Linked DNA regions of Homo sapiens: regions 1 and 3 are each linked to region 2. Evidence: fine-mapped expression QTL. A gene starts in region 2. Each other region holds a variant in brackets. All regions are shown on one strand. Distances are from middle to middle.

Evidence for each region. PIP is the estimated chance that this variant, and not a neighbour inherited with it, causes the effect.
Region 1: its variant is the best candidate, but not a certain one, in a credible set for the expression of GPC5 in tibial nerve (GTEx, PIP 0.73).
Region 3: its variant is the best candidate, but not a certain one, in a credible set for the expression of GPC5 in lung (GTEx, PIP 0.65).

What each region holds. Positions count from the first base shown.
Region 1 is chr13:91,562,565-91,572,846 of GRCh38, forward strand. All of the region lies in intron 2 of GPC5 (glypican 5), which reads left to right. Among named protein-coding and RNA genes, the nearest start is that of GPC5, 170 kb to the left of the region's middle. The variant G/A (reference allele first, on the strand shown) is at 5,874.
Region 2 is chr13:91,393,736-91,404,017 of GRCh38, forward strand. GPC5 (glypican 5) reads left to right here and starts at 4,886. Exons shown (of 8, transcript NM_004466.6): 1 at 4,886-5,474. The coding sequence starts at 5,312. It overlaps LOC124903189 (a long non-coding RNA gene), which reads left to right and starts at 3,142. Exons shown (of 2, transcript XR_007063831.1): 1 at 3,142-3,426; 2 at 3,611-3,853. RefSeq lists silencers at 4,700-4,994, 4,701-4,970.
Region 3 is chr13:91,444,281-91,454,562 of GRCh38, forward strand. GPC5 (glypican 5) reads left to right here. Exons shown (of 8, transcript NM_004466.6): 2 at 4,481-4,642. Among named protein-coding and RNA genes, the nearest start is that of GPC5, 51 kb to the left of the region's middle. The variant C/T (reference allele first, on the strand shown) is at 5,325.

The DNA.
Region 1 (10,282 bases), 170 kb after region 2:
TGCCTCAGTCTCCTGAGTAGCTGGGATTACAGGCATGCGCCATGATGCCTGGCTATTTTTTTTTTTTTTTTTTTGGTATTTTTAGTAGAGATGGATCCACCTGCTGTGGCCTCCAAAGTGCTGGGATTACAGGCATGAGCCACCACGCCTGGCCAAGGACCATTATTTCTTATGTATCTTGCTAGTTCTTAAGGAAATAAGATTACTGAAAAAGTAAGCAGTTTGTTCTTAAAAATAACCCAGAAACTTTCTTACAAGACTTCTGTGAATAGGACCAAGTATTTGAGAGCTCTGTTCTGGAAACAAACTTGTCTCTAAACCATCTTTAATTTTAAAATGAAGGATCCATATTAAAAATTTTTGTTAGAAATATGTATAATTGTGCATCGTAGAGAAAAAATGAGTTTTGCCATTTAAAGTAATTTTACATATTATCTTTTTTATTTTTAAACTATCATTTACTATCCTGAATTATGCTTAGGTTTATTACTATTGGCACAAAACAATAATAGCTAACAATAAATTCTATTGTCAAGTTCTGTTAAATCTCTTGTTTTAAATTTTACTCTGTGCTAAAAATCGCAAGTAACAAGTTTAAAATTACAAAAATTGGCACATTATTATATATAATTTATTCATGGAGACTATATTTAGAAAATTCTAAATCAGCCTATTAGGTCCTGGTTATACAGATTCACATACACAAACATATGCACCTGCACAGATATGGACCGCCTGCTAATTAATGTTCAAACATATAAGAAAAAATAATATCGGGAATTATGATTTGCTGTTCCGTGTAGTAGCAATTAAAAAAAATTCTGAATCAGACACTTGCACAAGCCAGAAAATGAAAACGGTTTTAGATTTCCAGAAACATTTTTGATGCTGACATACATTTCATATCTTAGACATCTTTCAGGGTTGATAGTTATAATCAAGATTGCATATTTAATTAAATGAAACTATTAGCAACTTCACAGAAGTTTAAGCAGTATACTATGTTATAAATAGAACGACTTAATTGCTATTCATTTCTTTAGTCATGACACAAATAATTATGGGAAATTGCCATAATGAAGAATGTACATACACATGCTCTTTGATATCTACATGTGAAATCAGGGTGGGACTAAGCTGTGTAATCCTTATTTCTGTTGATAATACCAGCGAAGTTCTTTGCCTCCCTTCCCTCCTCAGGCTTTTCCCTTCACTCTGACCAATTCCTTCCTCAATGTTGCTGCCAGCCTCCTCTCGGAGGACCCTCTTCTCTCTGACCATTTCCTTCCTCAATGTTGCTGCCAGCCTCCTCCCGGAGGACCGGGGAGGAGGGTCTTACTAGTGTTCCAGCTGGATTCTCTCATCATGACTCCTGCCTAGTGCCTCTGTAACTAGAGTTGGAAGTGAGTGTTTCGCCTTGGTGTCCCACTCTTGACCCAACCAACTCCTCTTTTGGGCTTCAACAAAGCTGTCTTATTCTTGGCACCCTATCTAGGAATCTGGACAAAGTTCCACATGTTGGATTCAAAAACCATTTCAGTGACAGCACCCAATGCCTTGCTAACACGAAACATGTGTCCTTTTGGTGCTTTTTATCTTTGAATGAATTTGGCCACCTGCCCCCTTACCATCATCTTCGTGGTGATTTCTTCTTTTAGGAGAAGATTTTCTCTTTAAGTGACAATATATTAATACAATGCCAAATATGATCTATACCATAACTCCTTAACTGGTGGATCATGTCCCACTGGTATGTCATAAAGAGGTAACAAGTCAGCTACCATCTTAATCAATTCAGCCCTTGGGACAACTTGGCAAGATCTGGGTACAAACAGCCTCGTCTCTTTAATTCTGTATAAAAGTTTGGTACTGTATTGTTTTGGGGCTTTATACTTTCTGCCATTTCAAGTAGCATCCTTGGGATACAGACAGATATGAATAATGTAGATAACGATTTAGCAATCCAAGAAAATAATTGGCAGAAATGAGTGAATTTTAATGTATTTGCAAAGCAATCTCATGAGCATGTAACTCAGAACAGCATGTGGCAGAATAAATCGCCTGCAGACTGTTTTCTAATCTCTGTCATCTTAATGGAATAGCAAATTTGCTTATAGGTATCCCTGAGATATGGGTGTAAATGGAGATAAATGATATATTTGAATTTTTTTCCAGGTATCAAATATGGGCTTTTGCAGTCTAAAAATTATCAGGCATATTATCGATTTTTGTTTAGTCTTTAAGTGATTTACAAGTCTTTTCAATATGTCGCCTTCAAATTATACTGTATAGTAACACAAACAAAATTCAAATATTCATATTTTATAAATTAAATAAAATAATTCAAGGTCATAAACTAATGGCTGACTTTTCTAGGTCATGGTTAGTTATATGATTTTTAAATATTTATATTTCTGTGGCTTTTTTTTGGGGGGGGGTCGGTGGGACAGAGTCTCGCTCTGTCACCCAGGCTGGAGTGTAGTGGCGTGATCTTGGCTCATTGCAACTTCTACCTCCTGGGTTCAAGCAATTCTCCTGCCTCAGCCTCCCAAGTAGCTGGGATTATAGGCATGCACCACCACGCCTGGCTAAGTTTTGTATTTTTAGTAGAGATGGGATTTCACCATGTTGGCCAGGCTGGTCTTGAACTCCTGATCTCCGGTTATCTGCCCACCTCTGCCTCCCAAAGTGTTGGGATTGCAGACATGAGCCACTGTGCCTGGCCAAATATTTATATTTCAGTGAAAAATTAGAGTTTATACTGCTTCAACAATGTACAGTTGTTAGAAAAAATTTGGAGTTTATACTGCTTAAGCAATGCACAGTTGTTAGAGAAAGTTTGGAATTTATACTGCTTAAGCGATGTACAGTTGTTAGGCAGACATCGGATAATATTTGCTTAACTTATTGGCCCAGAACAAAAGGCAGTAAATAAGTAAGGGAGCAGTTTGGGGAAGAGGCTGTTATTGGCAGGGAATCCTAGGCAAGATCCAGGAAATATTGAAGTGGAAGAGACTATTAATGTTAAAATTAACCAGACATGTACTTACAGCCATGGTTGTTTGTCCTAGGCGTTGCGCCTGGCACACTAATGCTGAACAAATGTAACCGACTATTAGTTATATTATTAATGAGCATTATCTATATATTTTGAAAGACTTTATTCATTTCCTAGAACTGCCATAACAAATATACACAAATAAGTTGGCTTAAAACAACAGAAATTTATTCTTTCATGATTCTGGAGGCAGAAGTCTGAAATCCAGGTGTCTGTGGGGTTGGTTACTTCTGGAGGCTCTGAGGATGACTCTATTCCATGTTTCTCTTCAAGCTCTTCGTGGCTGGTGGCACTTTTTGGTGTTCCTTATCTTGTAGACCCATGATTTCAATTTGTGCTGCTGTCTTCAAATTGCCGTTTCCTTTGTGTTTGTCTTTTCTTTTAATTATAAGGACACTTGTTACTGGATTTAGGGCCCACACAGTAATCCAGCATCATCTCGTCTCAAGATCCTCAATGTAATTACATGTGCAAAGACCTTTTTCCCACACACGGTCACATGTGTAGGCTTCAAGTGGACATATCTTTGTGCGTGGGGGTCACCAATCTACTACAGCCTCAAAATGTATTAAAGTCAGTTCTGAGTTTCTTAGGAAACTATGTCTAAAATATTTACTTAAATGAGAATGAGTTGAATCATTTATCAAAAATGCAAATTTCTGGCCGGGCGCGGTGGCTTATGTCTGTAATCCCAGCACTTTGGGAGGCTGAAGTGGGCAGATCACGAGGTCAAGAGATCGAGACCATTCTGGCCAAGATGGTGAAACCCTGTTTCTACTAAAATACAAAAAATTAGCCGGGCGTGGTGGTGCACGCCAGTAGTACCAGCTACTTAAGAGGCTGAGCAGGGGAATCACTTGAACCCAGGAGGCAGAGGTTGCAGTGAGCTGAAATCATGACACTGCACTCCAGCCTGGCAACAGAGCAAGACTCTGTCTCAAAAACAAAAACAAAAAAATTTCTGAACTATTTCCCAGATATCTGATTGAGTAGTTGAATGGCTAGTATGTGAGTATTCAGCAAGCACCACAGGTATTTCTGATATAGGTAATCCTTACATAAATTTTTGAGAAACATAGCAGACTAATATTTGAGGTGGCTGAATAAAATATTTTTCTCAAACTTCACTTTAGTAAAAGGAAAAGCACATCATATCTATATGAAATTATATTTTAATACTTTTCAAAAGGGATTTAAGAGGTTTTTAATTTTGAAAACTGATTAGTCAACCAAAATGTTGAGTAAATATTCATCAAAATAAACCATTTGAAAGATTATATTACAAAATTAATTATTTTTCTTCCAATTCTTTTTTTTTTTTTTTGAGAAAGCAAAATAAAACTTGAAAGCATTTAGCAGTGACTGGGAAAGAAAAGGCAAATGCATTAGAGTACAGAATTTGGGACTGTCTCTATTTTGCCTGTTTCCATTGGCTCCCATCATCATGCTTTTATTTCAGATCTTGTCCTGTATTTGGATCTTTCTCAGGGCCAGCCTTGTCCCATAAGCATGTGACTCCATTTCTACAGACTGAATAGTTCAAATATCAGAATTAAAGTCATTTAAAGGAACCTGGAGATTTCTTTATTTTTAGGAGTGGTTCAACGTGGTATATATGAAGGAAGCTGCATGTGTATTTGTGTATGTGTGCCTGTGCGTATGAGTATGCAGGTGTAGTATGATGTGTTTTAAAAGCAGATATTCTTATCTTTTGTTTAGATGTTCTCTACACTTAGTGTATTTCTAGGTCCTCCATGTTGCTAATTGAAAATGGTGTTTTTAACTAAAAAAAGGGGGATTAACACAGAGGTCAAAGGTTATAGCATTTCTGGGAAATAAATAATTGCAACTCAGGTACACTGAATCAGGGCAGCCCTGAATAGTGTTCTGTATGCCAAGCTCAGGAGAGGTTTTTTAATAGAGATTTCCACACAAGTTGTTTTCAGAAGCAGTTATTTGGCTGGGCAGAAATCTGAAATCACAAACCCATTCTGATTGGTTAGTTAATTAGGATACTGCCAGCTGAGGGATATTGAAGGCTGGAGGATACAGACTTTAGTTGTTTGTCGAAGTCTGTTGGAACATTCTGTGGTTTGACCTTCAGCAGGGGTAACTGCAGTCCTCTCCCAATCTCCCAACTCCACTTTAGAAAGCCTTAGTCTTAGTTACTTAATTTTCTTTTGTTCGGTTATAGGTGCTGATATGATTTGGCTCTGTGTCCCCACCCAAATCTCATCTTAAATTGTAATCCCCGCATGTGGCGGAACAGACCTGTAATCCCCACTTGTGGAGGGAGTGAGCTGATAGGATAATGGGGGCAGTTTCTCCCATGCTGTTCTTGTGACAGTGAGTGAGTTCTCACGAGATCTGATGGTTTTATAAGTGTTTGACAGCTTTTCCTTCACATGCTAACACACTCTCCTGCCACCTTGTGAAGAAGGTGCCTGCTTCCTCTTCTGCCATGATTGTACATTTCCTGAGGTCCCACTAGCCATGTGGAAGTAGTTTACTTTATAAACCTCCTTTGTTTATAAATTACCCAGCCTCAGATAGTATGTTTATAGCACTGTGAGAATGGACTAATGCAGATGCCTATTAATGCCTTGCTTCTCAAAGTGTGATCTATGACTGGCAGCATTGTCATGACATGGGAATTTATTAGAAATGCAGAATCTTTGCCCTCATCCAGAACTACTGAATCTGAATCTATATTTTAGCTAACTTCCCTAAGGTATTCCTAGGCTCATTAAAGTTTGAGAACTGAACAAACTTATAAAATGCTTCAGTAGATCAGCAGTTGCTTTTAATATAGGAG[G/A]CAATCTTTATAAGGGTTTCTAGGATATGATCCTTAGTGTGCAGCTGGGTCTGTAGGAAGATTTATATCTACAAATTCCTGAGTTGTACATCACATTGCTAGGGAAAAAGTAGAGCTTTTATTGAAAAAAAAAAAGGCATGAAAGTTTAGTGTTTTTTTCTTGTATGAAGACGGGTCCTTAGAATTTTTCAAATATTTTGTCTTTAAAATTGTCTAGGTTTGTTAATGATCAATATAAATTGGAAGGCCACCAGTACTTATCTTAAAATAGGCTTTCCATAGCAAATCATGTACCATATGTTATTTCTTTTTCTTTCTTTCTTTTTTTTTTTTTTCAGAAGGAGTCTCTCTCTGTCGCTGGAGTGCAGTGGTGCAATCTGAGCTCACTGCAACCTCCACCCCCAGGGTTGTAACAATTCTTCTACCTCAGCCTCCTGAGTAGCTGGGATTACAGGTGTCTGCCATCACACCCAACTAATTTTATTGTATTTGTAGTAGAAACAGGGTTTTACCATGCTGGCCAGGCTGGTCTTAAACTCTTGACTTCAGGTGATCCACCTGCCTCAGCCTCTCAAAGTGTCGGGATCAGAGGCATGAGCTACTGCTCCTGGCTGTTATCTCTTTTTTAATGTAAGATGTGTCCATGAAGTGTTATAACATGTAAAATACACACTGTAAACTGTATTAAAAATTAGTACAGTTGAAAGCTGAGGCAAGATAGAAAGAAATTGAACAACAGACCAAGGAGATATAAAATTTTAGGATATGAAAGTGTCACTTGAAATTAGTGAGGAAAGATATTTTGTTCAATAAATGATATTGGGCCACCTATCTAAACATTTATGAAAAAGTGGATTTTTAAAATATCATACCCAAGATAAGTTCTAGGTCAGTGTTTCTAAATATTGTTTTTGTCATTGGCTGCAACAAGTCATATAAAATATATATGTTTCTCCTAATTCATCCTCTCTCTCTGTAATTTTAAAAATACAGATATACTCTACATCAGTTTCTGTACTATGGCCCTTTGGAGCGTCGTTAACAATTTTAATATATAACATTTTTGTTCTCCCTAGCCTCAACAATTTTGCCCCATTGGAGGTGGTATAACCCCCAATGAGAATGCATGTTCAAGAATCTAGAAGAAGTAGAGTTTTAAATGTAACAAAATAATTGCTATAATTTGAATGATGGCATCCTTTCCAAAATTCGTATTGTAGCTTAATCCTCATTTTGGTAGTATTACGAGGTGAGGCCTGTTGGGAAGTGATTAAGTCAAGAGTACCTCTCCCTTCATGAATGGATTAGTGCCTTGTAAAATGGCTAAAGGGAGCTAGCTTAGGCCAATTTTCCTTCTACCTTGCACTATGTGAGGACACCTTGACAGTGCCTTCTATAAGGAATGGGTCCTCAGGAGACACTGAACCAGCTGGCTTCTTGATCTTGAACTTCCCCGCCTTCAGAAATGTGAGAAATAAGTTTCTGTTTTTTATAAATTACCCATTCTCATGTATTTTGTTACAGCAGGACAAATGGACGAAGATAATAATGAAAGAATAAGATAACAATTTAAGTGAAGGTTTGTAATTTTAGAGTGATTAAGTCCCTTCGGAAAAAATGATTAAACAGAAAATGCATAAAAGATATACTCATATATTAAGCTACATATTTTGAAAATCTATTGAACTATAAAAGTCGCCATAAACAAACTTTTAAAATTTTGTGTCTATGTCCATCCCGACAAATAGACATCAGAAAGTTAATGTTTTTTTCTTATTGAGATTATGCATTTAAAAATTTTCAGACATGCATTTTCCACAGTGAGCATCACAACAGGTTGAACATCCCAGATCCAAAAATCCAAAATCCAAAATTCTCCTAAATCTGAAACTTTTTGAGCACTAACATGACATTCAAAGGAAATGTTCCTTGGCATATTTTGGATTTTGAAGTTTTGGATTTGAGATGCTCAACTGGTATATCTGAAAAAAGGTTCAAATTCCCAAAGCACTTGTGTTCCAAAGGATTTTGGTTAGGGATACTCAACCTGTATTATACTTAGAAAATATTTAAAATTATAGCTTTTTAATGGGTGCCTATGATTATGTTATTTAATCCACTTACCTATCTTACAAGGATCTTGCTATATTTTCCACTAGATATTTGAGAATATATGCTTTCGAGCAATTACCCAAATTCCTTTAGTTAGTAAATGTTAGAGCTTGAATTTGAATCTCAGAATCCAAGTGTTTAAAGTTCCTGTAATGTATGATTTTTCTCTGTGCTATGTTTTAAAAATTAGAGCCATCGGTGATTTCCAAACTCATCAACCAAAATTTTGTAATTGTTTTGCTTCTAATTTAGATGTAGTTTGATTGGCCCATTGATGGGATGCATACACTTTATAAACTTGGGACTCAGAATTTTGGGAAAGTCAAGTTTCTTAGTCAAATTGTCTTAATTAGAAAAGTACATAACTCTTTAATTAGTTTCTTTTATGCATAAAGTCAATAATCTATTAAAAATCATAGCTTGCCTCAGTAGTTTTTTGTTTTCCTGGTTGATTTCTGCTGTATCTCCCTTGTCTGATAGTTCAGTCTGTATGCAGTATTCAAAATTCTTGTTGTATTTGGCTTTATTTTTAATGCTTCTGGTCTTTGCACTCCTCACAGATAAATATTTTATACAACATTAATGGTCCTTCTTGTATAGTAAGTCAGAGTTTATTTTACCTCCAGAGTCAATATCAACTTTTAATTAATAATTTGTATGCAAGTATAAGTAATGCCTTTCTCCTGTATTTGGAGATAAACATTTCTGATTTTAACTCTTTGCTAATTCCTTGAAATGTTTCAGATAGAGGAAAAATGATTTTTTAGAATCTTTTCTGTTTTGTCCACTTGCTGAGAAATGGGAAGGGGAAAAGATCTGGTCATTAACAGAGAATGTACTGCATATTTTTTGTTTTCATCCTATTTTAAACTTTTTGTCTTGCCAAGTAAGGATGCCTCAAACTGACAAGCACAGTAACAATTATGAAAATTTTATGTGTAAAAATATATATTGTGAGTAGGTCAGGAGTTCAAGACCAGCCTGGCCAACATGGTGAAACCCCATCTCCACTAAAAATACAAAAAAGTAGCTGGGTGTGGTGGCACACACCTGTAGTCCTAGCTACTCAGGAGGCTGAGGCAGGAGAATCACTTGAGCCCAGGAGGTGGAAATTGCAGTGAGCCAAGATGGTGCCCCTTCACTCCAGCCTACATGACAGAGCAAGACTCTGTCTCAAATATATATATATGTATATATACACACATATACATGTGTATGTGTATATACACACACATATACGTGTGTGTATATATACACACACATACGTGTGTGTATATATACACATATACTTGTGTGTATATACACATATACGTGTGTGTATATATACACACATATACGTGTGTATATACACATATTGTATATATACACATATTGTATATATACACACATGTATATACATATACACACATATATGTATATATGTGTATATATGTATATATGTGTATATGTGTATATATGCATATATGCATATACGTGTGTATATATGTGTATATACACACATATGTATATATACATGTATATACACACATATGTATATGTACATGTGTGTGTATATACACACATGTATATATACGTGTGTATATACACATATGTATATATACGTGTGTATACACACACATATGTATATATACGTGTGTATACACACACATATGTATATATACGTGTATATATATACACATATGTATATACATGTGTATATATATACACATATGTATATACATGTGTATATATGTATGTGTATATGTGTATATTTCACTATAAAGTAGAATAAAATAACTTCGAGTTAAAGGACAGTCTGTATCTGTTCGTTTTGTGTTGTTACAAGGGAATATCTGAGACAGGGTGATCTATAAAGAAAAAAGGTTTATTTGCTTCACAGCTCTGCAGACTATAAGAAGTGTAGTGCCAGCATCTGCTTCTGGTGTGGCCTCAGGAAGCTTATAATCATGGCTGACAGCAAAGGGGGAGCCATTGTATCACATGGTGAGAGAGAGTGAGCAAGAGAGGGGAGGAGGTGCCAGGCTCTTTAAACAACCAGCTCTCAGATGAACTAACAGAGCAAGAATGAAATCATGACCATGGGGAGGGAGGGCACCAAGCTATTCACGAGGGATCTGCCCCCATGACTCAACACCATCCACTAGGCCTCACCTCAAACATTGAGGGGTCACATTTCAACATGAGATTTGGAGTGGACAAACCTTCAAACCATATCACAGTCCTTCCCAAAAAAAGATAGTCATAACCTTATACCAGCAGAAATTTTACTTCTAACACAAAGTTTAAATATTCAACCT
Region 2 (10,282 bases):
AACTGAAAATATAGATTAGTGGTATACAGACACACATGTGTGTGTATATATATACACATTAGTGGTATACTGACACGTGTGTGTGTGTGTGTGTGTGATTTTTGAAAATGTTTGCTGATCAAAGATTCCCACTGACTGTCATGTTAATTTCAGTTTGGTGTCTGGTTTTGAGTATTTTATGTAATATTTTATTTGCTGTGTAGTCTCTCCTTTAGGCAGCCTTGCCTTCTCCTCTCCTCTCCTCGCCTCGCCTTACCTCGCCTCACCTCTCCTCTCTTCTTTTTTCGTTTCTTTTGAGACAGGGTCTCACGCTGTTACCCAGGCTGGAATGCAGTGGTGCGAACATGGCTCACTGCAGCCTCAACCTGCTGGGCTCAAGTGATCCTCCTACTTTAGCCTCCCAAGCTGCTGGGGCTTACAGGCATGTGCCATTATGCCTGGCCATTTTTTTGGAATTTTTGTAGAGACAGAGTTTCCCTATGTTGCCCAGGCTGGTCTCAAACTCCTGGGCTCAAGTGATCCTCCTGCCTTAGCCTCCCAAAGTGCTGAGATTACGGGCGAGAGCTACTGTGCCCGGTGGTGATTTTTTTTTTTTTTAACAGAACCATTACTATCTTCACTAGAGGAGATTTCAGGGGAGTATCACTCAATTTTCTCCTGGTTACTTGGTGGCAGAAATTCATTACTGGGGCAGCTCGGGCTGACATCCAACTTGGTTCTCTTTATTGTGCAACCAACGGCTTAGAGCCTACATCGGAGGGAGAGAGAAGGTAGGGCAAGACAAAAGTCAGCACTTTTTTGGAAATAATGAAGTGGAAGTTATTTGTATTAAGGATATTCTTTCTCTGACAACCTCCTTTTCACCCAGTTGATGAAAGAGGGATCCCCCTTTGTAAATTATACGAGATGATCAAACACACAAGACTGGACAGATGAGATTTACAGCAGTTTGTTAGTCACACATACTCATAGCCCAGGGGAGGAGGCTACCACATGCCATGCAGGGCCATACAGGGGAGGAGGGGCTTCATTTGGGAGCAGAGTGAACCTGCAGGAGTTGTGGGAGGCAAGCTTTGTAGTAACAAGAAGATGGTGTGTTGTGGGGAGGACCCCTTGGTTCCCACAGGAGGATGTGATTATCTTGTTGGACTAATTGCTCTGAAGGGAGGTGAAAGCCATTAGGTTGAAGACAGGGTGGGATGGAGCTGGTCCAGCTAAGGGAGGTAGCCAGCAAGCAAGACTTTCCATCTGGGTGGGGGGCATATCTGGCCAGAGCAGGAGAACTCATGACTAGGGACCTGTGAGGCTCAAAGATGTCAAGGCAGTTCGTGGGATTTTAGTGCTTGCAAAACAGTTCTCCTAGTTAAAAGCTTAGTGGAGGTAGGAAGTAGGAGCAGGTAGTACCTTGGCCAGCCCCACGTCAGTGAGGTACTATCAGGCCATCGTTGAAGCCAATGCAGAGCTCTGGACCACTATAACCAAGGTGTTCAGCAGGTTGTCCACATGGATAGCTGTGAGTACCAGAGTTTATATTTATATGATAGGTTGAGTTCAAGGGGCCACAAACCAGGTGTCTGGCTTTTCAGGCAGGCGAGTGTAGTGACTAAAGGGGTACAAAAGTTATGAAGCCTGGCTTGCATTTGGGCTCTTATCAGGATTTCTGGAAGGTTATTTAATCTCTTTGTACTTCAGTTTTCTCAGTAGTATAATAGTAACTGTCTCATGGAATGGTTGAAATGTTAAATGAGATAATATCTGTAAGTGCTTAATAAATCTTAGCTCTTGTCATTGACTGGGTATAAAAGTTACCCAAATCAGCTTCTGAGGGTAAACTAATTAGTGGCCAGTCTTAGCCTAAAAGAATAGTCAGGGTTGAAGACTCTGTGATATCATTAAATCACCTAAACCACACTGGAGGTTTTCTTTCTTTCTTTTTTTTTGTGAGATGGAGTCTCACTCTGTCCCCCAGGCTGGAGTCCTGTGGCACGATCTGGGCTCACTGCAATCTCTGCCTCCTGGGTTCAAGCGATTCTCCTGCCTCAGCCTCTTGAGTAGCTGGGATTACAGGCATGGGCCACCACACCCACCTAATTTTCATATTTTTAGTAGAGATGGAGTTTCACCATGTTGGCCAGATGCTCTCGATCTCCTGACCTCGTGATCCACCCGCCTCAGCCTCCCAAAGTGCTGGGATTACAGGCGTGAACCACCGCACCCGGCCGAGGTTTTTTATTTCTCTTTACAAGGTCCTAAGTTGACAAACTATAAACATATAAACAGTTACATAGAAAGTATCAGGGAAGTTTTGGATTTAGAATATTACTAAGCTGTATTTTAAATAATGACCATTTAAGGATTCTCCTATCCAAGGGTATTGGTATTTTGAAAGCAAAGCGCAATGCCTATTATATAAAAGACATTCAATACATTTTTTAAATACATTTTGTAAAATAAGGCATTATAACTATCAAATTATGGACAGTTTTCCCTAGCTTCATTTGTAATGTTTACCAGTAAATTGAATAAAAGGCTAGTTATGGTATAATTTGCAGAGGTTGCTCTAGAATGTTCTTATAAAAGGGATCGTGGCATTGTGTTCTGGGTGGAACTAGAAAACTTGTCTTGAAGCTTGGTAGCTTCAGTAGCAGGCATACTGTTGCCTTGCGTGGTGGGCTTAGGGATGCTAATAGGACAAGATGCCCTTCCAGGCCACATGCTGGCTCATCCACTTTGCTAGCAGTTATGGATAAGAGGTAGAAGGAAAATATATTTATTTTTTGTTAATGGGGATATTTTATACAGACTAAATATATTCTTGTTAGTTCCTATGGCATTTCTATAAATGACCTCCCACCTGTTTTGTTAACTTATAAAATCACTGAGAAAACTTGCTTGTGTGTCTCTTTAAACTCCTGTTAAGCCTAGAATAGCGGTTAAAAAAATTGTATGTTTTCAACCAATATGTATTAGTCAATTAGCTTTTACTGAACCATCAATACTCAGTTGTGTTTATGATTTTTATCCTTGCAAGACACACCGTTTTAGAGATTCCAGTTAATGGGATAGATGGTAATTTAAGGATCTTTTTGATGCTAAGAGTCTAAGATGATCAAATCTATCAAGGAGAGATCTTGGTAACAATAAAGATGTTTTAGAAAAACTTGGGAATTTATTAGCCTTATATAGAGATACACATAATTCCAGTAGAATACAGTTATATAGATAGAAATTATGCATATTTACTAGTAAAAAATCTGCTAAATGAATAAACAGCCCTTGGTGTTGCTGCCCAAAGGCCTTTGGTGAAACCTGATGGGTTTTTCTGTACCACAGAATAGTCAAGGAGAGCCTCTGGAGAAGAGCATGCGGTCTGGATTTGGAAGCCTCAGTTTGATTTCTGGCTTTGTCACTTACCTTAGGCATTCAGTAAGTCACTTCACCTCTGTGTTCCTGTTTCCTCATCTGTAAAACAATGATAATAGTAGTAACTACTTTATAAGGTTGTTATAAAGATTACATGAGTGAATTCATTTCCATAAAATACTTAGAATATTATCTGGCCCATAAGCACTATATACATTCTCATGGTTTTTCTTGTTTCTTTTCATAGATATAGGTGGCTTCCAGACAATCTTTCCATACTTGGTGGTTAGAGCAGAAGAGATTCATGAAGAGCACTGCCCTTTGAAACAAAATCTCATATTCAGAAAACTGATGCCAAACACCAAGTAGCATGATTTCACTCTGAAGCAGTGTTTCAGCCATTGCCCTGGAATGGTTTTAAAGCAAGTGATATACTGCTGAAAGTGCTGCCTTTGATATTAAATGTTCATTAAAAATCTTCACTAAGACATAAAGTTTTTCACTACTATCTCTTGGTAAGGGTTCAAATTTGAGATGAAATTCCTTAAAGTGGTTAAAGCATTCATTGTCCCCTCTGCCTGATGCTTTTAACTAGTTTATTTTACAGAAGGAGTACTCTCTTCAAGTGGCTGTAGATTGAGACACTCTTACAGGCTTAGTTGTTGAGTCAACCACATTTAAAAAATGCACCTGCCCTTTGGTTTATGGTGCGTAATGCATTCCTCTCATAAACTGTAAATTGACAAAATTCCTTTGCCATTTTAAAATTGCTTAAAGTATTTATTTTTCTATATTCCTTGTAAGGAACTCCCCTGAGCACTCTTAACTTAATTGCTCTCTGAAAAATATTTTAAAGAAATTCCAGAAGTGGTAAAGCTCAGAGGAGCCCCACAAATACAAAGTGCTGAAGTAAAATATGATGCTAAATGGTGATAAGAGACTTAAAACTAGATTTCATTGTGATAAGAATGTGATAAAGTTTGATTGTAATTCTTATACCTCCTTTCAGAAAATCATGTTATAGAAAAATGTTCCTAAGCAGTAAAACAAAGCCATTTTAAAAAATAACTTCTCATGTGCACTCTTTAACAACCTAAGTGTTATGAAGTCTCTCAATTGAGATCTTTAACCGTAAATAGTTTTTGCCTTTTGTATTATGTCCAGATCCTATTTAATGCAATTAGAATACAAATTCCTATGTACTGAGGACCTTGATTACATAGATGAGATATTTCTTAGTTCCAGTTGGTGTTTCTCATCTCTTGTCTTCTCTGACCCTATTTATACATTCTCTGTTTTTATCAGATGATTCTTCCCCAGAACGGACTGGGAGAGCGAGGTCCGGGTTTCCTTCTATTTATTTGCATCGATGTCGCTCCGAGTCTTCAGCACTGGGCCGCGTATGACAGCATCTTAGTGGGTGCGGAGCGGGACAGCGCGCCGGGGGCGTGGCAGGGGCGTGGCCTGTCCGCGGGGCGGGGAGTGCGGGGCGGGGCTTCCGCGGAGCGCAGCGAGCGGGCACATCCCAGGTTAGCTGCTGCGAGCCGAGCCGGGCGGCGGAGGCGGCGGCGGCGGCGGCAGTGGCGGCAGTGGCGGCAGTGGCGGCAGCGGCAGCAGTTGCAGCAGTGGTGGCCAGAGCGGATGCTTGCGGGCTCCCTGCGGCTCCACTAGTTTTCTTCGCCCCGCCCAGCCGCCCACTCTTCTCGGCTAGGGAAGAAGACCAGAGGGTGCTCAGCTGGAAAACTCTGGTGTCTCAGCTTAGGGCCTCCTCCGGGAAGAGCTAACTGCTCCCAGGTGAAGCCGGTGCCCGCGGGCGGTCCGTACACCCCGCAGCCGGCTCGCACCGCTCGAGAGCCTCGGCCGCTGTGTCTTCCACGTCTGCAGCTCAGCCAGGGCGCGCAGGGCGAGTGGGGTCCACTGGCGGGTAAAGGGGACCAGGACGGCGAGGATGGACGCACAGACCTGGCCCGTGGGCTTTCGCTGCCTCCTCCTTCTGGCCCTGGTTGGGTCCGCCCGCAGCGAGGGCGTGCAGACCTGCGAAGAAGTTCGGAAACTTTTCCAGTGGCGGCTGCTGGGAGCTGTCAGGGGGCTGCCGGATTCGCCGCGGGCAGGTAAGGGGCAATGAGGGGGTCTCTGGACTGGCGGCGTCCGAGCCCGGCCTTCGCTCCCCCAGGCTCCCTTGGTGGCACTCGTGGGAAGATGACCTTTCGGGCCCTGCAGCCGCGCAGGGTGAATCCCGGGGAGGCTTCCGGGGATGCTTGGTGCGGGTAGCCTGAGTGCAGCGCAGCGCAGCTCTGGGGACCCCTAACCAAGCCTGCGACGAATCCCCGTTCTGGGCATCTGCTTCCCGCCCGGCTCCCTTCGTCTTGGAGGATGAGTTGGAAGGAACCAGGAAAGCAGACATCAGGGCGTGGGGGACACGCAGTCTAACTCCGTTTCTCTTCCGAGTAGGAATTTCCCCAGTGCCCCACCGGGGATTTCGGTTTACTGCTTTCTCATAAGGTGGAGGGAATTGAATTGATCGCCCCAAGTTTGGTACTAAAAATCACAAACCTGCGATATACCCCTTTGCTGGAGAATGGGGCACAGACAAGGGCAGCCGGTCTCCTCTGTAATTAGGACTTGGACCCTGTGCACCCAGAGACGTGACCCTTAGCTGCCCTTCTGTGCCCTCGTATCAAGCCCTGCTTGGAGGAAACCCAACCACCCAGTGTGTCTCCCAGCACCAAGGTAGTTTTTAGCCTGAAAAGTGTTAGGGCAACAGGCGATCAAACCGAACGTACTGGGGAGTCACTTGACATGGATGAGATGTACCAGCGTTCCAAAGGGAAAGATACAGTTTGTGTGGCCAGCGTGGATCTTGCTTCCTGTGAGCGCCTTTTGCCTGTGCTTTCGAACCCTGCTCCCCGTTTCCACCGCACCAATTTCCTTCTGCTGGTGGGAGTTCCAGTGTAGGTTCTGTCTGGAAGAATAGGTCATAGCTGTCAAACGCAATAGCAGGTGTCTAGAGCTAAGTAAGATCTCACTAGAGCCATGCACCCCTTTAGCTGTGACTATGAAGCCAACACAGACGAATCTGTGAGGTTACTGGTTGAACAAAGAACTTGTGGAGGACGCTTAAGTCTAAAGTCCCGAGTTTCCAGGGTTGGGGGACTTGCTTGTAGCAATGAGGAAGTGTGAGCTGTAGCCGCTTTTCTTGATTGCTTTGCTCAATTTTAAGTCATCCCAGAAAGAAAATCTAGGCATTCGGGAACACTGACTCCATTTGAGTTTACATGACCAGTCTTAAACCCAGCTATTTCTTTGTATACCTGTTTGGTACTAGGTGCTTTTTCTGTATTACTTGAAACAAAGTTGACATTCTCAGTTTAGGGCGATTCTTCTATCCCCAAATAAAATATCGCCTTATAGATCTGTATTTTTCTTAGTGCATTCTTTTCATTAGGAAATAAATCTCACTTTATTGGCTGCTGATAAAACTAAAGTGAGTTTGTGCGTGTGGGTGGTGAGGGTGTTATGATGTGAGATCTTTACCTGAATTATTAGATTTTTAGTCCCCAAATATGGTAACTTTGCCTGCTATGTTCACCGAATGTTGATGGCCAGCCCCTTCTCCCCAGTAAGGCCCTGATTTCACTCCACTCTGGTATCTCAGTATTTCTGGTATCTGCTGAATGCAACACATTGATTGGGTGTTCATCTCTTTTAAAGATGAACTTTCCAGAGTATCAGTCACTGAGACAGTGTCTTACCAGGATGTCAGGGAAAACTAAAGCTCTGTCCTAAGGAGAGGGAAATGACTGTAATTATTTGCATTTGATACACATGACACACAAAAAAGTTCCATGACGACAAGGAATCTTTCTTTTCTAAGTCACTCTGGATTGTTTCCCCATTGCTAGTAGATTTTTTAAATCTGTGGCTGAAGGTGATGGAGGAATCACGGGAGCACTCACAGAAGAGGCTTAGAGACATCAGTGGTACTGGTGAAAAGAAATGCTAAGTTCCTTTAATATTTTCACTAAGAAAAAGTCACACAAAAGTGCTATGCTGATTTAGATCCACCCCCCAAAAAAGGCATTCATATAGGAATTTGATATAATTCTGAAGTTTTGTGTCTGTATTGTTGGTCATTCTTTTACAAATAATTCAGCAAAATATTAAACTTTTTTAAACACTGATTCCTCTCATCTCTCTAAAAAAAAAAACCCCTCAATCCCAAATTGAGTAAACCAAACATACCACATGCTTAATAAATAATTTTCTTTCTTTTTGTATTTATATATGATCTACAACATTTAACATGATTGAATATGGTAATTGACTATCATATTTTCTAAGATTATCCTCAATCTCAAGAGAGAACATAATTTAGTCATTTCTCCATGAGAATACAAATAGTAATATCTTTTAACAAATCTATTCATTTAGCACATACCCTTTCACTGACTAAAACAAACACATTTAATTTGATTTTGTTTTTGGAAGTACGTATTTTTACTGCTTTCTTGCATTTCTTGTTCACAGTGGTTAATCCCTGAGATGTCTAGCCAAAACACAGTTTGTATAATATAAGCAGGTAGAATAAGTTTTTAGTTTCTTCCTACCTTTGTGACTTTTACTTTTTCTGATAAAAATGTTATCCAAATTGAAATTATTAAAATTGTGAGAGCAGTGATTTAAACTGTTTCTCAGATTCCCCTCACCTTTGTTCTCTACCCTGCTCCAATTCTTTTAAGCCTATTGAGCTCCTAAGGATGTTTGGATGAGAAATGTAAAAAAGGAGAGAAGGTGTAAATGTGATTAGAATTAGAGATTTCCCTGTGTTCCGATTTTATTTTCTAAGTAGTAGTCAAGGTGCCCTTTGCTCTTGTTTATTTTATTCAGAAAAGAACTGTTACTGAAAGTGTCTTTTAAAGGTCTTTTCATTTTTATTTTATTTATTGGGGATGGGGATAATGCTTTTCTATTAAAATTCTCTTTGCACATGCATTGTGCATTGTTCACACATGCAGTAGTTCCTCTTTTAGAGGGTAGTTCAGAAAGGGGAAGTTCATAAAAAATAATACATTTAGATAATTTATATACCAACTATTTTTTGAAATATGCATGTTTGTTGATATAGAAATCTATAGCAAGTATACTCTCGATATCAAGTAGTCTGTGAAAGTAACTTTTCCTTGGTAGATTTTGGCTATAAATAGAGTAATAAAAATAAACTCTTGACATGGCTAAGTGAAATTTTAATACTAAAAGACACTGTAAGCAGTGCTCTGAAGTTGTTGTTGTTTTTTAAACTGCTTTCATTATAATCAAATCTTATTATTGCTCCAAGGACAGTGTAGTTTCATTCTCACACCTAAGAAAAATGATCTGCTTGGTAACCTTGGAGTTTGGATTTACTGGATAGACATTTGGCTTTCAAAACTTGGTTCTACCACTTGTAGTTCTGCTTCATAGACAAATTATCATCTTGAACCTCTGTTTTCTCATTTAGAAATAGGAATATTCTTAAAAAGTGTTTGCATAGATAAAATGAAATAATGTAAAATGTCACAAATCCAGGCACATAGTAAGTGCTGAAAATATGTTCTTGTTGTCATTATAATTTTTTTGTTTACTGTCTTGATTTTAACTTGATTTTTAAGGATGACATTTTAATTTTAGATCTTTATATATCAAAGATGTTTTTACAATAATGAGTTGGTTTCAAGTCAGAAATGATTATTTTTAAATTTGGGAAATGTATTTTTATCTAAAGTGATATCCGTTACATTATGGTGAATATTTTGTTTATTTTTGTGAACTAATAAACCTCTATGAAACAAGGCTGCGCTGCTGCTAGCTGCAATGCCCATAACCACTGTCTCCACTGCCACACCACCGTTCTTCTGTCTGTAGGGAGGTAAAATAGTGCTTCTAAGGTGGTTTACAGATTCACACAATTAGAATGTTGGTGGCCATAGTCACTCATGGACAGTAATCTGAAATTGCGACTCTATTTCTCATGAAACCAATTTTGCTGTTTGAACAACGTGTTTGTGGGGATCAAATTTCCAAAGCCAGAATTGGGACCCGTCGTCTGACATTGGGGCAGATGATTAACATCAGGATTGCCCTGGGTCGAAGCCCACCAGCCAGGAACCACTGGAAACAAGATTGTAGTAAAATTAGATTCATTTTGTTTGTTGCAGCAAGGGAGATTGCACACCAAAGGGACTCTGGAGAGTTTGGTAGTAGGTAGTTGGGAGGGCTTTTTATAGGATTTGGGCTTGTGGTGGGCTATTATTATAAGGAAGGTTTAATGAAGTGGGGCAATTCAGGAATTGGCTATTTTGGTAACTTTTATCTAGGTGTTAGAAAGATTAAGGTGGGGTAGTTGTCATAAATAAAGAAGCAGTAGTAGCTAGTGCTGGTTAAAAGAGGGGAATGTTTAGTTATTTTTGTGGTTGCAGAGTGCCTTTGTCCTCATCCTTTTATACCACAGGTCCCAAGTGGTCTTGCCTCATCATTGTTTTCTAATTCTGTGCATGTTATTTATCTTGAATTGTGAGCATCAAGGCCCAGTTCCACTTCCAGGACAGTTTGTCACCTTTTCCCTTGGGAAGTCCAGTCTGTGCTTTGATGTCTAAGAGAATCACGTGTTTCATTTTTCTCTAGGCCTTTAGTGCATCTTAATGGTGGAGAAGTGAGTTTGATTTTCTACTTTAGGGTCATAGAATCCAATGGCTCATCAGGTGCTGAACTATACTGATCACACATATTCCCTCATGGGGTTAATTATAACTATTGCTGTCAACTATAAATCTAGTGCATCAACTACAAATATTATATATGTCCCCATTCTCTCTCCATCCCATAATTTAAGTTCCATTTTGCCGAGTGTCCAACATCCTATAGTTGTAAAATTGGCTTAGGA
Region 3 (10,282 bases), 51 kb after region 2:
TCTTTCATGTTTTGTGTCATTGTCTTTCAGCTTGTTTTGAAATAGTATGGCTAAGTTTTTGATCTTTTTTGGAGGGAGCATATCATTCCAGCATATTTTTTCTTGTCTGTGGGATATTATTCTGTTTCTTATTCTCTTTTTTATTATAGTAACTCTGAGTATCGACCTCAATATTTTTGTTGTTCATTTTATATGAAGTTAGTGTTTGTTTTTCTGAACATTTTTATTGAGACAGGCTTCAGCATAGCTTCTGTAACATTGCAGAGCTTCCTCTTCTGTTAATTTTGTGTAGTGTTTAAAAATATGGCAGCTCATTTTATGTTATTTTCTGGATTTATTTTCCTTTGCACTTTGGGCTAGACTTTCTCTATGTGTCTTGAATCCCTGTTCTGTTGAATTTTGATTTCACTTACAGCATTTCTCTTCTGTGTGTGGTTCTGTCCTGGAAAGGAGCCCTGCTGAACCTGTTTGATTGTTTACTGGGGTGGGGACTGCTCTTGTTCCTTCTTTTCTATCATGGGTCGATAGAACACATTTAATGATTGAGGGGGCAAAATTCTCCCAGTTTCAGCTGCTGTAGGAGCCCCGCTTTACTTGTAGGGGATATGTTTCAAGACCCACAGTAGATCCCCGAAGCATCAGATAGAACCAAACCCAACTGCTGTCAGTCAGAACATGTTTCTGTTCATGTCTTCCACCCACAAATTGAATGCCTTTTCCATCTTAACTAAGGACTTACGTGCTGTGGCTATAACTTTTCAGTTTGAGTTGCGATGGCAAAACTAGCACAAATTATTTTTCCCTTCTTCACGGTTTCATGGATAGAAGATTCATTCTTATGTAGATCTTAGTAAACTCAGCATATCGTTATTTTTTCTTTTCTTAACTGACTTTCACCTTTTCACTTAAGCGAAGCACTTTGGGCAAATCCAGATTGCTAGTATTATTACTCTTGTGCTTTGGAGCCATTTTGAAGTAAAATAAAGGTTACTTGAACACATACACTGCCATACCAGGACAGTGTCCTCTTGACTACCAGGAGGGCTAGAAAGTGGCTAACTGGTGGGACGCATAGACAGCGGAGATCTCCTGGACAAAGGGGTGATCGACACCCCAGGTGGGATGAATCAGGAAGGCATGAGATTTCATTGTGCTACTCAGAACAGCAAGCAATTTAAGCCTTATCAGTTTGTTTATTTGTTTGTTTGTTTTGAGACAGAATCTTGCTCTGTCCCCCAGACTCGAGGGCAGTGGCACGATCTCGGCTCACAGCAACCTTCATCTCCCAGCTACAAGTGATTCTCCTGCCTCAGTCTCCTGAGTAGCTGGGATTATGGGTACATGCCACCATGCCCAGCTAATTTTTGTAGTTTTAGTAGAGATGGGGTTTTGCCATGTTGGCCAGGCTGGTCTCGAACTCCTGACCTCAAGTGATCTGCTCACCTTGGCCTCCCAAAGTGCTGGGATTACAGGCATGAGCCACCATGCCCAAGCAAAATCTTATAAGATTTTTGGTTCTGGAATTTCCCATTTAATATTTTCAGACTGTGACTGTGGGGAACTGGAAGCATAGAAAGTGGAACCATGGTTAAATGGGGAGCTACTGTATTCTCAAGTGGGTCGCTGTGCTTTCCTGTCACTCCTGCTCACTATTTTGGGGTTCTCCTGATCTCAGATCCTTCAGACATTCCTCTGTTGCATCTTTCTTCTACCCTGTGCCCTGCTCTGTTACTGTGAAGATCTTGTGCCTATTCCTGGTTTCTCCCCATTCTGTTTGTATTTTAAAGTTTGTGGGGATATCATGTCATCTAATTTTGTTTTTGTTTTTTGGGGGTTTGTTTTCTAGTTCCATCTGGTTTTATGTGGAGATTTGGAGATAGTGAAAACTATGCTGCCACTGCCACCATATTTCCAGAATACCTCCTGATGTTCCTATTTAACATATTGAAAATATACAGGCATGTAGATATCTGTAAATTTCTTATGCTAGAGAATGGAAAGGAAGACGTATTAACCACTACTGCTGCTTCTGGGTGAGAATTCAGAAACATCCCCACAATTCTGGTTGAAGTCTCCTTCATTGAGGCACATTACTGTTTTATTTTTGGTTTTGTTTTAGTACTCTGTTTCTTTTGGAGTTTGATTTTACTGTTTAGAAACATGACTGTCACTCCAGAGCCTGGGTTGTGTACTCTTGCTGTCTCATAGAATTCTAGGATCATGCCATGTTCCTCGAAGCCAGGCATTGAAATCTTCAGATACCTCTAGTTACCATGCATAATAGTATCTGGGTTCACTCTAGCTTTGTTTTCTTATGATGCCTGTTCTATTTACAATAGGAGCCTGGGCTTTATATCACCCAAACATCTTATTATGCCCTTTGTGCTGATACTGTGAACAAAATGTAAGAGATAGCTCTTTCCCTGAGGATTTTGTTCATCTTGTCTGTCTTTTGGATTGATATAGTAACTTAGGGAACACATTTCCTGTCAACTCTTTTCCCTTTTCACTGTGACCCAACTCTAAATTATTTAAGCTTATCTTATAGGCGATACTGATGGAAATGTGCCAAGGAGAGATAAGTCAATCTTTGAGGGTTTGCTGCATGCGCGCATGAGAACAGGTAGGGTAAGTGTGTCTGAGACAGAGAAGAGACCATGGAAAATGGTTCTGTGACAAGAGAGAGCTTGGTGAACACAGAGAGCTGAAATAAGGCCAGAGTGTGATGGGAAGAGTACAAAGGCCAATGTTTCCGGAGATGAGACTGGAGAGGGAGGGAGGAAAGGAAGGATCACAACTTGGAGGCCTTCACAGGCCATGTTTAGGAATTGGTCTAACACAACAGTGTTATATATTTAAATTCCAAAGAGATATTTGCTATGATCTGCTGTTATTGTTCTTTTTATTCCTCAGCAGTCTTTCCTACACTAAATATGTTTATATACTTTAATATTTATTCGTTAGTTCTTTTCCTCAATCTCTATTATTGCTTTTCTCTGGATGCTAATTCCTCAATCCTTCAATTTAGGAATAAAGCTGAGAAGATAGCTTTTTTTTTTTTTTCAAATAATTTTACTGTTTGAAGTAGAATTTGCTCTTACGTAACTTTAGGTAAGATAAGTGAAAAACGATTGCCAAAATGTTACCTACTGTGACACTTACGAATATTTTATGCTTCTTAGCCTTTGTAAAGTGTCAAAATTCTGTCATTTGTTATTTGTCTGACTTAAACTACAGCCAAAATCGTTAGAGATTTTGGTGTCCCATGTTGATAGGAAGCTCAGAGTGGTTTCATATATTTTCAGCTGACCCAGAACCAACTTTTGGAAATTTGAGACCTGAGGCCAACTCTGTGTGGAAAAAGTAGGAAGGGCTTGAAAGGTGGTTGTTATGTGCATGCGTCTTGTGTGTATGTCTGTGTGCATGCACCTATTTTACTGATCTAAAATTAGTTGATGAAGAACTAATGTGGAACCTGTGAAACTCACAGAGATTAAGGGCCACAATTCTTCTTGTTATTCTAAAGTAAGGAAATAACCGTATTAGGCCATTATGTAAATAAAATTGTCCTGAGCTTTACTTATAATCTAGTAGCCTTGGAATGCCCTGGGGCTCACATCAGCTCTCTCCATCAGGGTTTCCTCTTTGGGCACTAACTCTTTGTGCTCCACATCTTTCCTCTCTGTCCTCTAGCATATCTGCTGTGCATAAAGGTGCTTGTCCTGGGTCCCTACCAGGATGAAAGTTTAGTGATACTAGCAAAGGTTTTTTTGTAACCATAACTCTTACATTTCATATATTAATAACTTTACATTTCATGCAATATACATCTTCACAGGATCCTTCTAAACATGATTGTACAACTAAAAAGTGCTTTTAAAGGAGGGGATTGTCTCTCGCCAGCTATATAGTGAGTGGAATCTTGGATGCTGAGCTTGGGCCCATGGGGGCCTTGATCTCCCAGCATGTCATTATTGCAGAGATAGCCTACTTCACAAGCAGCACGAGCCTGATGGCAGCTGAGAAATCAGGTCAAGTTTTTTGACCTTTATGTGATGTTCAAAATTCAGTTTCATTTCCCCATGAAAAGCAATTCTTTTAGTCCACATAATTATCTATAACATATTTCTTTCAAGCAATTTTGGCTGAATTGATAAAATAAGCAAAAAACCCACAAAAAACCTTTTTCTTGATTGAGCGCTGTACTTCATAGTAGTTAATTTGCTTTCTATTGAGTGGAGATACTTAATATTTGACCAAGAAGTTAATATAATATTTGAGCAAAGAGTTAATGGTTTAGAATATTTTGTTTATGATTGTGTTAATGAGCAATAGATAAACTTTCTTATAGCAAGTACTCTAGCAAATCCATTCCTCACATAGTCCTTTGTGTGCAGGACTGGTCATAACGCCTGATATATAATATGTAATACTTGTTAAATGAACAGGTAATCATTCTGAAAAATGTTGTGTGTTCCAGGACCTGATCTTCAGGTTTGCATATCCAAAAAGCCTACATGTTGCACCAGGAAGATGGAGGAGAGATATCAGATTGCGGCTCGCCAGGATATGCAGCAGTTTCTTCAAACGTCCAGCTCTACATTAAAGTTTCTAATATCTCGAAATGCGGCTGCTTTTCAAGGTAAGTGGATCTTGAATTCTGCAACTAAGGACTGGCCGTGTTATGTAATTTGCCTAAGATAGTTACGTTGGCAAACTTGGCTGGGTTTATTTCCTTGTATTTACATAATATTCGGGTATAAAATGAGGTTTTAACTTTTTCTAGCCTTCAAAACTTGTTTCTGAGGTCATTGTGGGAGTATATACTGAGTTGGATTGGGGAAACTGAGTTGGACTGTTATGTTAGTGAAATGATCGTTGGAAATATATACTGCTATAGGGTTCTTCCAGGTCTGCCAACATTCTGACTCATAGCTGTACTTTAATATGAACAGACATAATTATTAGATTTCATGGAAAAGTTCTATAACATAAAATCTCATTGCTTTTTACTGGGTAATTATAGATTTATCTACTAAAAATTTTTTTTGGATGTCTCATAATTTTATTTTATATAAAATTTTACTTTAAATTCTGAGATACATGTGCAGAACATGCAGGTTTGTTACATAGGTATACATGTGCCATGGTGGTTTGCTGCACCCATCAGCCCGTCATCTAGGTTTTGAGCCCTGCATGCATTAGGTATTTGTCCTAATGCTCTCCCTCCCCTTGCGTCCCGACCCCGCAACAGGCCCCTGTTATTTGAAGAAATACTCTTTAAATTTCCTTGCTCTAATCTCATATGGTTTTCATAAGAACAC[C/T]AGTGGAATATATCAAAGTGCAAGCAAGTCTGATAAATAGTAAAACAGGAAATGTTAATTGGATGTTTAAGGGTCATTTAAGACCAGAACTCAACCTTAATTCAAGCAATATGTTCAGATATAAAATTAATAGGTTATAAAATTACAAGGCACACTGAAAAATACATGATGTTTTTCTTATTTTAGTCATCTCTTCTGTAAAATTCCTTATTACTACAATAAAATAGCTTAATTTATTTTTCTTCTTATAAAGCATTAGCTATTCTGTATATGACTAGAATGAAAATATCTAGATTATACAGCTTTTCAAATTATTACCTTTGGTCAATGCAGAATATAACTTCTGTTAGTATTCCTTTTAAATAAGTACATTAATGTCAATCTATTTGAATAATTTGCTTGGTGTACATATATAAGTAAATCACAGAGCTCTTTAATTTTTAAAATGATAGTTATTAAATAAAATAAATGCAATAAATCAGAATAAAATTTAAGTTAAAGTGTAGTTCATGATGAATTAATGCTTTTTTGTAGAAAGCGTGAAATGTCAGATTTTAAGGTTTTATAAATTTAGCTGCTTTTTTAGATGCCTTACAAAACAACTTTATTTCTATTGTAGGATTTATTCATGTGAAATTGTTGGAGGAAAATTTACTGATATACATTTTAAACCAAGATTTGTGATTTAGCTGAGTTAGAAGCCGTTAACCATCTACAGAAAATTATATTTTCTTCCAATGAAAAGGATAGTAGGTACAATATGAAATATACATTTTGGAGGCCACGCAGTGGATATATCAGTCTGAGCAGAATGGAGTTTGTGATAGGTGGTCATATGCTTAAAAAGGTGGACTGGATTCATATTGAATCTTGGATATGTGATCAAGATAGAGCACATTACGTTCAAAGGGTTAGGAAACCTGGAATATTTAGACTTTTAAGATGGATTGAGGCTGGTGAAAAGTTTTGGTGATACTGCTAAAAGTTTAGTGATAACCATCTCAGTAGTAGAAATATATGTTAAGGAGATCGTCTCTATTGAAGTGTCAGCTAATTTTATGTAAACCTTTGTTTTCTGTTTACTAAATTTTATCTGCTTTATTCATTAGGTTGAGTTTTGCTATTTAAAAATTAATTATAAAAAATATAGAGACATTCTTAAATATGATTTTTTAATAATAAATTATAATTTCTTCCTTAGTAGATGTCAAGTTTTATTTAAGAAGCTCAAGGGAAGACAAATTTAAAAGAAATTTGCCTAAAGGCTAACTTTTCTGGAACCAAATTCACTTATAAGAATACCCACTTTTATTGAATTGAATAAGTAGCTTTAGGCTTATTTCCTTAAAAACAAGCTTAAATATATATGCCAAAAGCAGTACAAGAGATCACTTTGCTGTACCATAAGTGAGCAGGCTACCTTATCATTAAGTAAAATGCCCTCCATCTAATTTCTGTGCAATTAAAATATCTGAAAACAATATAAAGTCTTTATAAGAAGGAAGCAGCCAACACATTTTTTTTGGGAAACGTCTACTTGAGAGAAATTTGATAGAGAAATCAATTAACTTCTCAAATGATGTTAAGTAGATGTGCTACATTTTGATTTTTTAGTTTTCAAATAGTTCATTTATATTTCCTAGTTCAACAATATTAATCTGTTTTCCGAGTTATATTGTAGGTTATAAAAGACATTGGACTGGGATGTAGTATGGTCTCTTTCCTCATGGACCTTATGTGACCCCACGGAAACATATTTTTTAGAGCAAACTTTTGAATACAGCCAGTGAGGATGATCACTTGGGTCTGGGGATTTAGCAGAGGGCACACTATTGTTAGATGAAGGCTGGGAGGTTAAAAATGCATGAGGGAGAGAGGAAGCCATGCTGACAGCTGTTGTTAGAAGAGACCTAAGATTATCCTATGTGAAACTCACACTGGGCTCTGTAGTCCACTGCCTATGTATATTCCATTTAGGCTAGAATTAGCCTCTAGGACAACTCTTCTGTTTGTTTGTTTTTTTTTTTCCCCGAGGTGGAGTCTTGTTCTGTCACCCAGGCTAGAGTGCGGTGGCATGATCTTTGCTCACTGCAACCTCTGCCTCCCAGGTTGAAGTGATTCTCTTGCCTCAGCCTCCCGAGCAGCTGGGATTACAGATGTGTGCCACCATGCCCAGCTAATTTTTGTATTTTTAGTAGAGACGGGGTTTCAACATGTTGACCAGGCTGGTCTTGAACTTCTGACCTCATGATCTACCCACCTCGCCCTCCCAAAGTGCTGGTATTACAGGTGTGAGCCACCATGCCCAGCCCACATTTTCTTAAAATGAACAAAACAGACAAAAATCTGCTTTTATTTATTATTTATTTTCATTTTTTCTATTATTTTTAATTTATGAGACAGGGTCTCACTCTGTTGCCCAGTCCAAAGTGCAATGGTGTGATCACATGGCTCACTGCAGCCTCAACTTGCCAGGCTAAAGTGTTTCTCCTACTACAGCCTCCCGAGTAGCTAGGACTACAGGCTCATGACACCTTGCCTGGCTAATTTTTGATATTTTATAGAGATAGGGTTTTGCCCTGTTGCCCCATCTGGTCTTGAACTCCTGAGCTCAACTCATCCACCTACTTTGGTCTTCCGAAGTGCTGGGATTATAGGCATAAGCCACCATGCCTGGCCAAAAATCTGTTTTTAGAAGGACTCATGATTATGACCTGGGACTTCACTATATTCTAAGGGCAATCATCCATGAAGTATTTTATAGGGCAGAAAAAGAAAACTGCTACCCTTATGTCAGTTGCTGTTCATAAATAAGTAGTGCTGTTTGCAAGGAGGAATGTTGGCTTTGTCACAGTGCAAACAATAACTGTTCTTCATTTTCAGGGGCTTAGTAATGTTCATGAATAAAGCAGAACAGCCCAGGATAATACAAGAGTTTGTTTCCCATTGGTGGTTTTGCTATAAGATTTTCTGCTTTAAAAATATTTTGGAAATATTTGTTATAAATATTTTGTTTCTTTATACATGACAGTATGGTGTGATGCATGGAGAAATAGGGGAAATTGATGGAGAGTCATCTTCTGTAAAAAACAACTCTTATCCAGCTTATATATTTTTCAATTTTTAAATCTCTGTTTAAATAAAATAATGAAATTTAGTTTTTTAATTTGTAACTATGCAAAAATTTCAACATGACTTTCAAAAAATAAAAAATAATATTTTAGAGGACACTATTGGAAGCTTGTGTTTTGTGTTAATATTTGGAAGATAAGGTTAAAATGTTATATCTTTCCTTAGAAATGAACCTTTTCTTATTTCTTTCAACTTCATTATGCTCATATATTTCTAAAATATATGGTGGATACTAAGTCTTTATTCTGGAAAATTTCCAGTTATATATATAACTGGAAATGCATTATTCTAAAAAAATGTTATTGCTAGAGTCTAAGTGACATTTAGAACAAAAATTATTTAACTTTTTTTTGATTTCATCTCTTGGCTAATTATATTTTGATTCCTTGATTATATGTTTTTGAAAGATTGGCAAGCCTGTCCTCTGGGGTTGAAATGTTAGATTCAGGAATTTATTAAAAAATGATTGCTATTTTTAATGAAATGTAGGAATATGCTTGAAATTAAATATATTTAAAAAGCAGGTGAATTGAGAATATGAATATAACTTACGGATTTTTATCCTTTATGCTAACAGATACTGGTTACTGTAAAGTGTATAGCTATCGTATAGCTGCTACTGTAAAACTAAAGTATATATGTATATATATAGCAAAAGACACAGGATATAGTTAATATTCAAATATATTAATGAATATGAAGACAAATAGATTTATATAAATGTTACAATATCAAGCATAGAGCACATTAATCTTATTTAAGTCACTTCAGCTATACTTTACAGAAATGGACTATATTTAAAATTTTTCCTAGGAAGAATAAAGGCGTATTGCTATTTTTAACATTAAGAATTACTTGATCAAGATTAAGAGAACAGGCAGCCTAGGCTGGTAGTGTTGGGGAGACTTATTTCTATGTGTAGCACTGAGAGCAGATATACAGCAAATGTAAGTAAATTAACTATATGAATAAAGGAATGAATGAATGAATGGTACTTAGCAAGAAAATGGTTCAGAAATAAAATGAGAGATTCATTTCCTCTCTCCTCCCTCCCTCCTCCTTCTTCCTTTCTTTTATTCCTCTGTTGATGCATTTAATATATCTTTTGAGCACCTACTGGGTGCCAGCATCATTAGGTACTTAGATTGTACACAGTGTCAAAATGTTAAATCCATTATACTTTTACTGGATCATTCAGACTCCTAATATGCCGACATATTTATTAGTTTATTAATTTCTAAACTATAAAGGGGCACATGATAGTGTTTATGTCAGTGGCATGCTGAATGGGATTGCATTCTTTTCCTTGTTCAGTTTTAGGCAGTGCATGGTTTAGTGTGTTATCTAATACAGCAGCTATCAGTGCAATTGGTCTTTATTCAACTGTCCTTTATCTCTGCAATGTTAAAAATTGTTTCTTTTGAATCGGCGTCAACAGGCTTATATTAATTATGAGAAACCAAGCAATTTTCCTGTTCTAGATAAAAGTTGCAAGAGCTTAAATTACTTTTCAGCTGGAAATAAAGCTTGCTTCATATGAAATAATATCAATAGTAGAAAAATATTAACTATAGATCTAAGATCAGGTTTACTTTTCCAAGTTTCTTTTTTAAACTCTAAGAAGTAAACTTTTAGTTGTTTTAATTCTGACAGATGATAGTTATGATAATATCACCTATGGCTATGGTAATCTCATCTTGCAAGCACAGTAATTTGCTTATAGCTGGTGAAACAGTTCTTGATTTTATATTAAATACACTTTCAGTTAAATCTTTTCAATGTAAGAACTGTACATCTATTGGCTAGATGAATTGACATTTAATCAG